3 separate regions of the Homo sapiens genome follow, and regions 1 and 2 are each linked to region 3. Evidence: fine-mapped expression QTL. A gene starts in region 3. Each other region holds a variant in brackets. All regions are shown on one strand. Distances are from middle to middle. Region 1 has its middle 17 kb from the start of MEPE. Region 2 overlaps MEPE (matrix extracellular phosphoglycoprotein). Region 3 holds the start of SPP1 (secreted phosphoprotein 1).

Region 1 (2,769 bases), 130 kb after region 3:
TGGGGTTTCACTGTGTTGCCTAGGCTTGTCTCGAACTTCTGACCTCAGGTGATCTGCCCCACCTTGGCCTCCTAAAGTGCTGGGATTACAGGCTTGTGCCACCAGTCCCAGCCTTGTACGTTCACTTTAAATGATATTTTTATTATTTGTTGATATAAGATAATCCACAAAGACAAGCTATTTTTCATCATAAACTGAAACATTCCTGCAATGGTAGGTTAATACAGGGGAAGTTCTGGACTAGCTATAGATTTGTGGGAGACCCAGGTGACTGATTTGAAGGTCACTGGGAAAGACATCCATATTAGTGATTTCAAACTTTGACTTGCATTAAAATCATTTGAGGGACCTGTTAAAAAAGGAAATCCCTGGACCCCGTTCATGGCCTTATATCACAAATATTACTCCATTCACTTATTAATGCAATGTGTCTAAGATCTGCCCCAGCTGGCCTGCTCAGAATTACCTCTTTGCTAAATAGACAACTTTCTTTCTTCACATAGTATTATGTTGGTGCAAAAGTGATGACTGTTTTTGCCATTAAAAGTAATGGCAATTACTTTTGAGCCAACCTAATACTTCTATCTTCCTGATGCTGTTTTAAGTAAAAATTATTTAAGATTGTTTGACTTCTATTATTAATCTGTTAACCTAACAATTATAAAAATCTACTTAAAATTCAAATCTAGCAAGAGTCACTTCTAAACAGGGAGTGTCTGTGTTACACTAAACCATATGCCTACAAATTGATAAAGTATTATTCGTTTAATGAAACAGATCCTCTTGTTCTTATTCTCGAAAGTCTAAACCATAGCTTCAGGTAGATTTTCTTGCAGCTTTTGCGTGAGTCCACTCATTGTTTTTGACATTATTCTCATTTGGATTTCTGGATTTGGATTGTATCGGTGTTTTGTTCTCTTTTCTTTCCAGACTTCCTCATTAAATTTTTTCTAACCATTTATCTGCCCCTTTCTCTTTCAGCCCCCAATTCCTATCTTCCTGACATGCATTCAGACTCATCTATTTCTTCTCCTTTTCCTTTGGGCCGTCTAATACCATATTTTAATGCCTGTGACTGTAAGTATCATTCTCTTGAATAGCAGAGTTTACCTTCTCATACAGAAGTTGTTTTTGAAAGGGACTTCTGTAAAAGCATCATAATGTCTTTGAAACTTACGCTGTCTTGAGCTCCTGCTTAGTTAAAGGCAGGCCCTAAAGACAGAGTGAGGAGATAACACAATGTTTATTCTAGACC[G/A]CAGAGAAAGTCTGTTGAGCAACTTCCTCCTGGCTGGTCTTCTTCCTTCCAACTCCCCTGAACCCTACCTTGCTTACCACTCCTTCCCCATCCACTGGTTGGGGAGAGCTATCTTAAGCTCTAAACTACACATGGGATCACTTAAGGTCGCCACTGTGAAGCTCTTATGTACTAGTGAGGCTTATTGTCTGCAGCCTCTCTACATGTGTAATACGTTGGGTAAAATAGATTTTACTATCTCCTGGCTCTTCCCTTCAGCTAGAGTTCATCTTCTCAGAACTCCTGTCTCACTTTACTTATATTTCTATTATTTAACACATTCTGCCTTGTATCTTTCGTATGACTTTCTCCCTACTTACTTATAGTTTTGATAAAGACCAAGAGCATCTCTTCTTTTGATCTCCAAAGAATTTTGTAAAAGATGGTCGTTCAATAAATACTTTTCAACTGAGCTAAATGTTATTTCAGACAAGGTCAGATATGTTACCCTGACTGGTAGACGCGCCAAGAACAGATTAATTAGTATTGTAAAATCAAGGTAAATATTTACAAGCAGAGAAGTCCAGGAAGGTGAGGTTTGAGGGAGTACCAGGGCTGCACGTAAATAACAGAACCGGAGCCTGCTCGCAGACTGGTACAGTGACCTTTTCTTTTTGAGCACAAGGTGGCAGGCTAGGTCAATTTCCATCGTCTCTTATAAGGCAGCTACGTGAGGCTGAAGTTTTTTGCCCAATTTCAGAAACAGATATCTATTTTTTTTTTAACTGAGATTAGCGCAGCCTGATGGCTAAAACATGGTTTTGGATAAGGCATGGGCCTCACTCTTGACTACTGACTGTCCTTGTGGATCTCTGGTCCTTTGTGTTTGGACTAATTCCTCCACGTCTGCATCAAATAGCAATGCATTGTGGATGCCAACACACTTCTAGTTTCTGTTAACTGGATGAAAAAAATATGAACATTGTCAGTGTTTTGAAGAAATATCCATGAACACTGAAGCTTAGAGAGAGGAAACAAAATCGGACCAGAGAATTGAAATACGCAGTTTCTCCACTAGATAGCAGACTACGACAGGTGACTTTTGGAAGGGTCCATCTGTATTTACCCAAAGAAAGCATCCGTTTTTCTCCATCAGTTCATATTTTTCTTTTACCACGACAAGTGTTTTTATGTGATCAGACCATTCGCATGTAAAGCTCTGATATAAACCTGAAATATAAGTAGCAGTTTGATTTCAATTTATTAATCTGCAATTTAAATTCTGATAGAGTTTTTTTTTTACTTCATTAATTGCCTCCAGTTTTTTTTCCCCCAAATTGTCTTTTATTTTTTAAAAAGCAAATTACTAGGAATAGTTTATTCTGGAATTCTGATGGTAACATTGGGTGATATGTTCAGTCTTTCCCTTGATTCTGACCTGTTATTTCCAGAAGATAGGGAACAAATGAGGGAAAAAAAGATTCCTTGTTTTTAGATTCTACTTTGTATTCTTTCAAGTTTCTCTCTCTCTCTCT
Region 2 (2,769 bases), 140 kb after region 3:
TGCTCTTGAATTGCCCAAGTGTCATCCTCGGGCTGTGTGTTCTGTAAGCTTGTAGCCGTCGATGGGATGTTATCTGAAATAGATTTTGATTGGACTCTCTCTTTTTTTTCACTCCCAAACAGAAGTACTGTTCTGCTTGGAGGACTGTCTGCTTTTATATATGTATCTTATTAACTGTTGGAAGTAGGCGGAAATGTTGAATCAGCTCACATTTGAATCTAAAATAAAAATGGCTTTTAGAAGTGCCCTCTACTTTTAAGAAGCTAGCTAATATATGGTCTGCAAAAGTGCCAATGTATAATATTTGTAAAATATAATTTGAAATTACTTATTTGTAAAAGTTATGGCATTATTGTTCATTAATTTTTTAATATTGGTGGGTATATTCTGAAATACGATTTTGCCATAAGAAAAAAATAGAAATAAACTTTGTAGTATATCACTAAATAAAAAGTATTTTAAATATTTGACTTGAGTAATTGAGTCCTGGAAAGTTTTACTTGGACATTTATGTTTTCCTTTGCAATCAAGTTCATTGTTGTTTGTTTACTCATTACTAAGATAACCTTTTGAGTTAAACACTAAATCTAAACTCAGTAGATTATAATAATCTCTTCCTAATTTTTTCTCTCCCTTGTCTGAAGTGGGAAGTTATGTTTTATTTTCGGTGCTTCTCTGCTTTTAAAAAAGTAACATGTACACTAATGAATTGTGTGCATTTTATTAGAAGACTGAGTAGAATAATTTTATAAATGAAAACATGAAACAACTTTTATCCTGTGGTATATGATGGCTATCTTTGCATTGAAGAAAATATCAAAAAATAGAAAAAAACTTTTCTTACATTTGCTTGTGTTAAATGATTTCTGACTGTTCGATGGTTTATGTACCAGTTGGCTGGCTGCTTTTCTGTGCTCTGCTTTTCTGTCTCCATGCTTTGGTTCCTATGAGTTTTTTCATGGAGAACGGCCTCACCCATTCACTTCTGTTTGCTCAAATCCTACTCATCCTCCATGGCCCCACACAATTATTTCCATTATGAACACCAGAGGCCAGGAACTAATTTCTTTCTACTCCAAGCCCTTAAAGCATGATCTTTTTTTTCTTCTCGGTACTACTCACATAGCACCTCCCACATTCTGTCTTGTTTTACAATAATTTTTGTAAGTGCCTTTTGTTTCTTTTCTAACTCTAAGATCCTGGAGAGAAAGAATTTGTTTTCTCCATCATTTT[A/T]TCTCACATAGTATCTTACACACCAGTTAAGAACTCCACATATATTTGGCAAATGGATATGTTTTAACTTATTTATAGTTAGGTGTAGTCTTAGAGATGTCATCTAAAGGATATCGATGGCAGAAGAAAATAACATTCTGAAGGGAAACTATTACTTCCATGGGAAATAAAACCAGATTTGGAAAAAGTAAATAGCCCTTTTGCTGATGGCATTTCAAGCTATTTCCAGCCCTTTGGCCGATGAATCTACAAGAAGGGACTGAGTGAAAAGAATTATTGTCATTGTAGTGACAAGGGCCTCATTCTTTTACTTCTGAGCAACCCAACACAGATGGAGTTATCCATAGAATGAATTTAAGAGACAGTAAAATGTGTCACTCATTAGGCCAAAATGGTTTTTCCTCTTAGCCGTCCCCTGCTGAGATCCCCACCATCAGAGCATATGGTAGAATATGTCAAGAAAACTTTCTTATAAAACACCAAATGTTACTCAGAAGCAGTAACACAGCAGTCCATGGGCACCTGAGGTCCATGAGTATCACACCTGCAGCCACAGGTCCTGAAGCAGAGCGAGATGTGGGCCGAGGCATGGGATGGGGATCAGGAAGATTCTGGGACCCAGAGTTTTGTAGTAGAGAGGCTTGAGGAGCCTGGGGAGGGAGGGAAGGGACAAAAGTGCCAGCCATAAGACAGAAACCCCAGAGCAAGCAAAAGTAAACTTTGCCTCCCCTACATTTTCCTCTAGGGCTAGTCCAGAGTTTAGTCATGCTGAGAATGGTCATTCAGAGATTCAGCTTACCTTTACATCAGTTTGATTTTTCTTCTCAGGTGACATGTAAACACACTTAAAAACATAATGCCCATGTTTCTCATAGTGACCCTTGTATGTTATCTACAAAAACACAACATTATATTGAGGCACGTTTTATCTCTTACAAAGAAGTTTTTGGGCTCTTTGTAATAATATAAGAAACTTTAAAAGTTGGGTGAAGTTGAATTCTACCTCTGACAAATGGTAGTACTTCTTATAACCACAGGAGGGTGTGTGTCAGCCGGCTCCCGAAGACAGCAACTTGTTCCTTCTCTTTTCTACATAACTCTAAATCTGTTTTCCCTAAGGGCCTGTCAACTGCTTTCTGTCCTAGGGTGGATCGATTTTATTACCAAACGTCTATGGAAATGGAGCATGTGGAAATATTTTCAGGTGGGAGGGGGTGAGAGGACCAGGAGAAAGACAGGATTTACAATATTCATGTCTGATGTCTAATTGGCAAAACTCACAGCATGAACATTCAGGCTCTTAAGCTGGCAACGTTGGCCTTTGTAATTTTCAGCTGAGATGAAGTACAGAAGATTGTTAGTTCTTAGAACATAATTTTCTGTGATAGGCAGAAGCAAGCTGCAATTTGGTGGCATGCAAAGCGGGGAGGATTCATTTAACTGGATGCATATGGAAAGCTGACTCCACGGACATAGAATTCCCCATTCAGATCTGATAGCCACCTTCCCCTTTACTCCCTTATTTATCATTCTGAG
Region 3 (2,769 bases):
TTTCTTTAAGATGCAACTGTACTCACTGGTATGGCACAGGTGATGCCTAGGAGGCAAAAGCAAATCACTGCAATTCTCATGGTAGTGAGTTTTCCTGCAAAATATTTCATAAGGAATAGCTGACATCTTCATAGGTTACAACAGTGATACCTTTTTATACTACCACATTACAAAATGATCACAAATAAAATATATTTTCTATAGAATCTTTTCTACTTCTTAGAGATGCCTTTTCTTTTTAGTATTATAGTCTTTCAAGTTAATATTTATATTGCCACCTATTATCCATCTTTCACTATTAGGCAAGGGAAAGGGAAATTTTGCAAGTCTGTATTTATTCAACTTTAAAATTTAGAGTTCCAGAAATTATACCATTACTACCTTATATATCTAGCTCTCTAAACCTACAAACAGATCAACAGTAACTTAATTATATTAATAAGCTAGTATGGGAATATTTTTTAGAGAAGAAAAAACTCACAGAAAAAAATGAAAAAAATTTGCTTTATCCATTTTTCCAACATGTACTTTAAATGTGACTTTTAGCTTAATTATCAAGTAGGTGCTACTTAGGTGAAATCAAACTATCTCTGAAATTTGTTATTTAAGTAAGATGTTCTAAAAATTTGAAATTCAAAGGAAAACATTGAAAATAGCCAACAGCTTTTCTATTTGTAATAATAAGCCTACACAGTGTCATACAGGTATCTTGGTGAATATTTTAACAGCTAAATTTAGCAGTGGCATATTCAGAAAGGGTTTTCTTCCCCTTAAAAGTGAGATACATCATTTAAAAAATAGCATTGTAATTGGTTTAATTAGCATAAAAGATCCCTTTTCTTTTAAATTCCTGCACAGTCACCCACTGAAAATTATATAGGTATAATTATTCCAAAGGGGAATTTAATTTTACTATTTTCTGATTAGCATCGGTGGTTTCCGTTCTTTTGAGGACCCAGTGGAAGTATTTTTAAGTTTTAAATTTGATTGGCATTCAAAATATCTAGACACCTTTGTTCCAGGAGACCTGCAATGTATCTAATCTGCTTATTAAAAAGGCTAGAAAATTTAAGTCTGTTTAACAGCATTACAATTAAAAATATTTTTCCTTAGAATTTGGACTTCCCCATGAAATTCAGCTGAATGCACAACCCAGTAGCAAACTGAAGCTGTACCTTGGTCGGCGTTTGGCTGAGAAGGCTGCAACTGGCCTGAGACGAGTCTGGTCCCGACGATGCTGTGCTCTGCCTCCTCCTGCTGCTGCTGACAACCAAGCCCTCCCAGAATTTAAATGCTGCTGCAGACATCCTCCACCAACACAGGGAGGCGGAGAGATTGTGTCATGAGGTTTTCTGCCACTGCCCAGCCCACCTGCTCCCACACTTCCCCCTCTGGTTTTGTGGTTAAAACAAAAAAAAACAAAAACGCACACACACAATCTACAGTTAAAACATTACTTATGTACAATATCATTAACTAGCTTTTTCATTTACGGGATGGGCATTCAGCATCCAGGAAGAGCACTTAGGGATCCCATGAAAAAGGGAGAAAGTAGGGAAAAACATTAATGTAAAATTAAATAGAATGGATTTTTGTTTCTTTCGGTTTAAGTAACATAAAGGTAATATCTGCAACCACTCTTGCCTGTATGATTGTACTTATTGAAGAGCCAGAAGGCTATTGTTCAAGCCTGCAAGGAGTTCAGAAAACTTGCCTCTGTCCTTTACTACTCAAGCTTAGCTTTGTGATTTCGAGTATGCAGTAGCTTGTTACTTAGACAAATGGCACTAGTGACATTAAAATATAAAATTCTATATGAAATAGAAGAATGGTAATTTATTCTAGATGTTGCAGAAGTAAAGCAGTTTCTGACTGAGAGCAGGATGACTGCTTGAGAGGGCTGCTTCAGGAGCCAGACCGTGGTTCTGAATTCCGCTGTGTCACTGCTGACCTGTGCAACCTTGGGCAAATCGCCCAGCCTACCTATCCTTGTTCCCTCATCCATGAAATGCAATACTATTACCTAGGTCATGGGGTTTTTGAGGGGTTTAAATGAATTAGTATGTTAAACTAGCAATGCTTAGCACATATTAGATGCAAATGCTCTGCGTATCTTAAGGACTATATGTGTGTTAACTATTATGAAATTTTTAAGAGGGGCAGGCAGTCACGAATTGTAATGTCCTTTAAAAGAACAGGTTATTAAAATGAGAGTAGACGTAAGATCTTTAAATTGTATGCATCAATAAGGAAATTTTGCACATTTCTAAAGGAACAGATTCGATTTTGGAATCATCTTTTTTTCTAGTTTTTCTCCCAAGGTATGTAAAGTAGGCCACTTAAAAAGAAAAACATTTTTAAAAATTTCTGTATTAAAAAACACTTTACTAGGTATTTAAAAGGTGTCTGAATGAAAGAAAATTACAGGGAAAGTCCGAATATTAGAGCAGAATTCAGGGATAGCAGAGCTCTGGGTCCTTTTAAAATATTTAATATTGCCTTGAGATTACTTATCTTCATTTGCTTTCTCAGTTGTGAAATGCAGATTGCACTATTTATTTACCTTACACCTTTATTGTTAAGACTTGTGTGTAATTGAGATGAAAAATAAATGGTCCTATTTATTATTAGGTTGCTGCAAAAGTAATTGTGGTTTTTATTAGTCCTAAAGTGTCAGCTTCCTTTTGCCAAATATTACTTTTAATATAAATATAGATTAAATAATGTCTTGCAGTGATAGTGTATAGCTAATTCATAGGTTTCATGAAC

What was found. PIP is the estimated chance that this variant, and not a neighbour inherited with it, causes the effect.
Region 1: its variant is fine-mapped to the expression of SPP1 in whole blood (TOPMed, PIP above 0.99).
Region 2: its variant is fine-mapped to the expression of SPP1 in whole blood (INTERVAL, PIP above 0.99).

What each region holds. Positions count from the first base shown.
Region 1 is chr4:87,848,333-87,851,101 of GRCh38, reverse strand. No RefSeq gene overlaps it. Among named protein-coding and RNA genes, the nearest start is that of MEPE, 17 kb to the right of the region's middle. The variant G/A (reference allele first, on the strand shown) is at 1,256.
Region 2 is chr4:87,839,041-87,841,809 of GRCh38, reverse strand. All of the region lies in intron 3 of MEPE (matrix extracellular phosphoglycoprotein), which reads right to left. Among named protein-coding and RNA genes, the nearest start is that of MEPE, 7.5 kb to the right of the region's middle. The variant A/T (reference allele first, on the strand shown) is at 1,234.
Region 3 is chr4:87,974,207-87,976,975 of GRCh38, reverse strand. SPP1 (secreted phosphoprotein 1) reads right to left here and starts at 1,262. Exons shown (of 7, transcript NM_001040058.2): 1 at 1,176-1,262; 2 at 27-94. The coding sequence starts at 80. RefSeq lists cis regulatory regions at 1,267-1,276, 1,311-1,320, 1,495-1,510, 1,948-1,956, 2,023-2,031 and 1 more, enhancers at 1,289-1,359, 1,122-1,621, 1,984-2,004 and promoters at 1,176-1,389, 1,179-2,266, 1,266-2,769.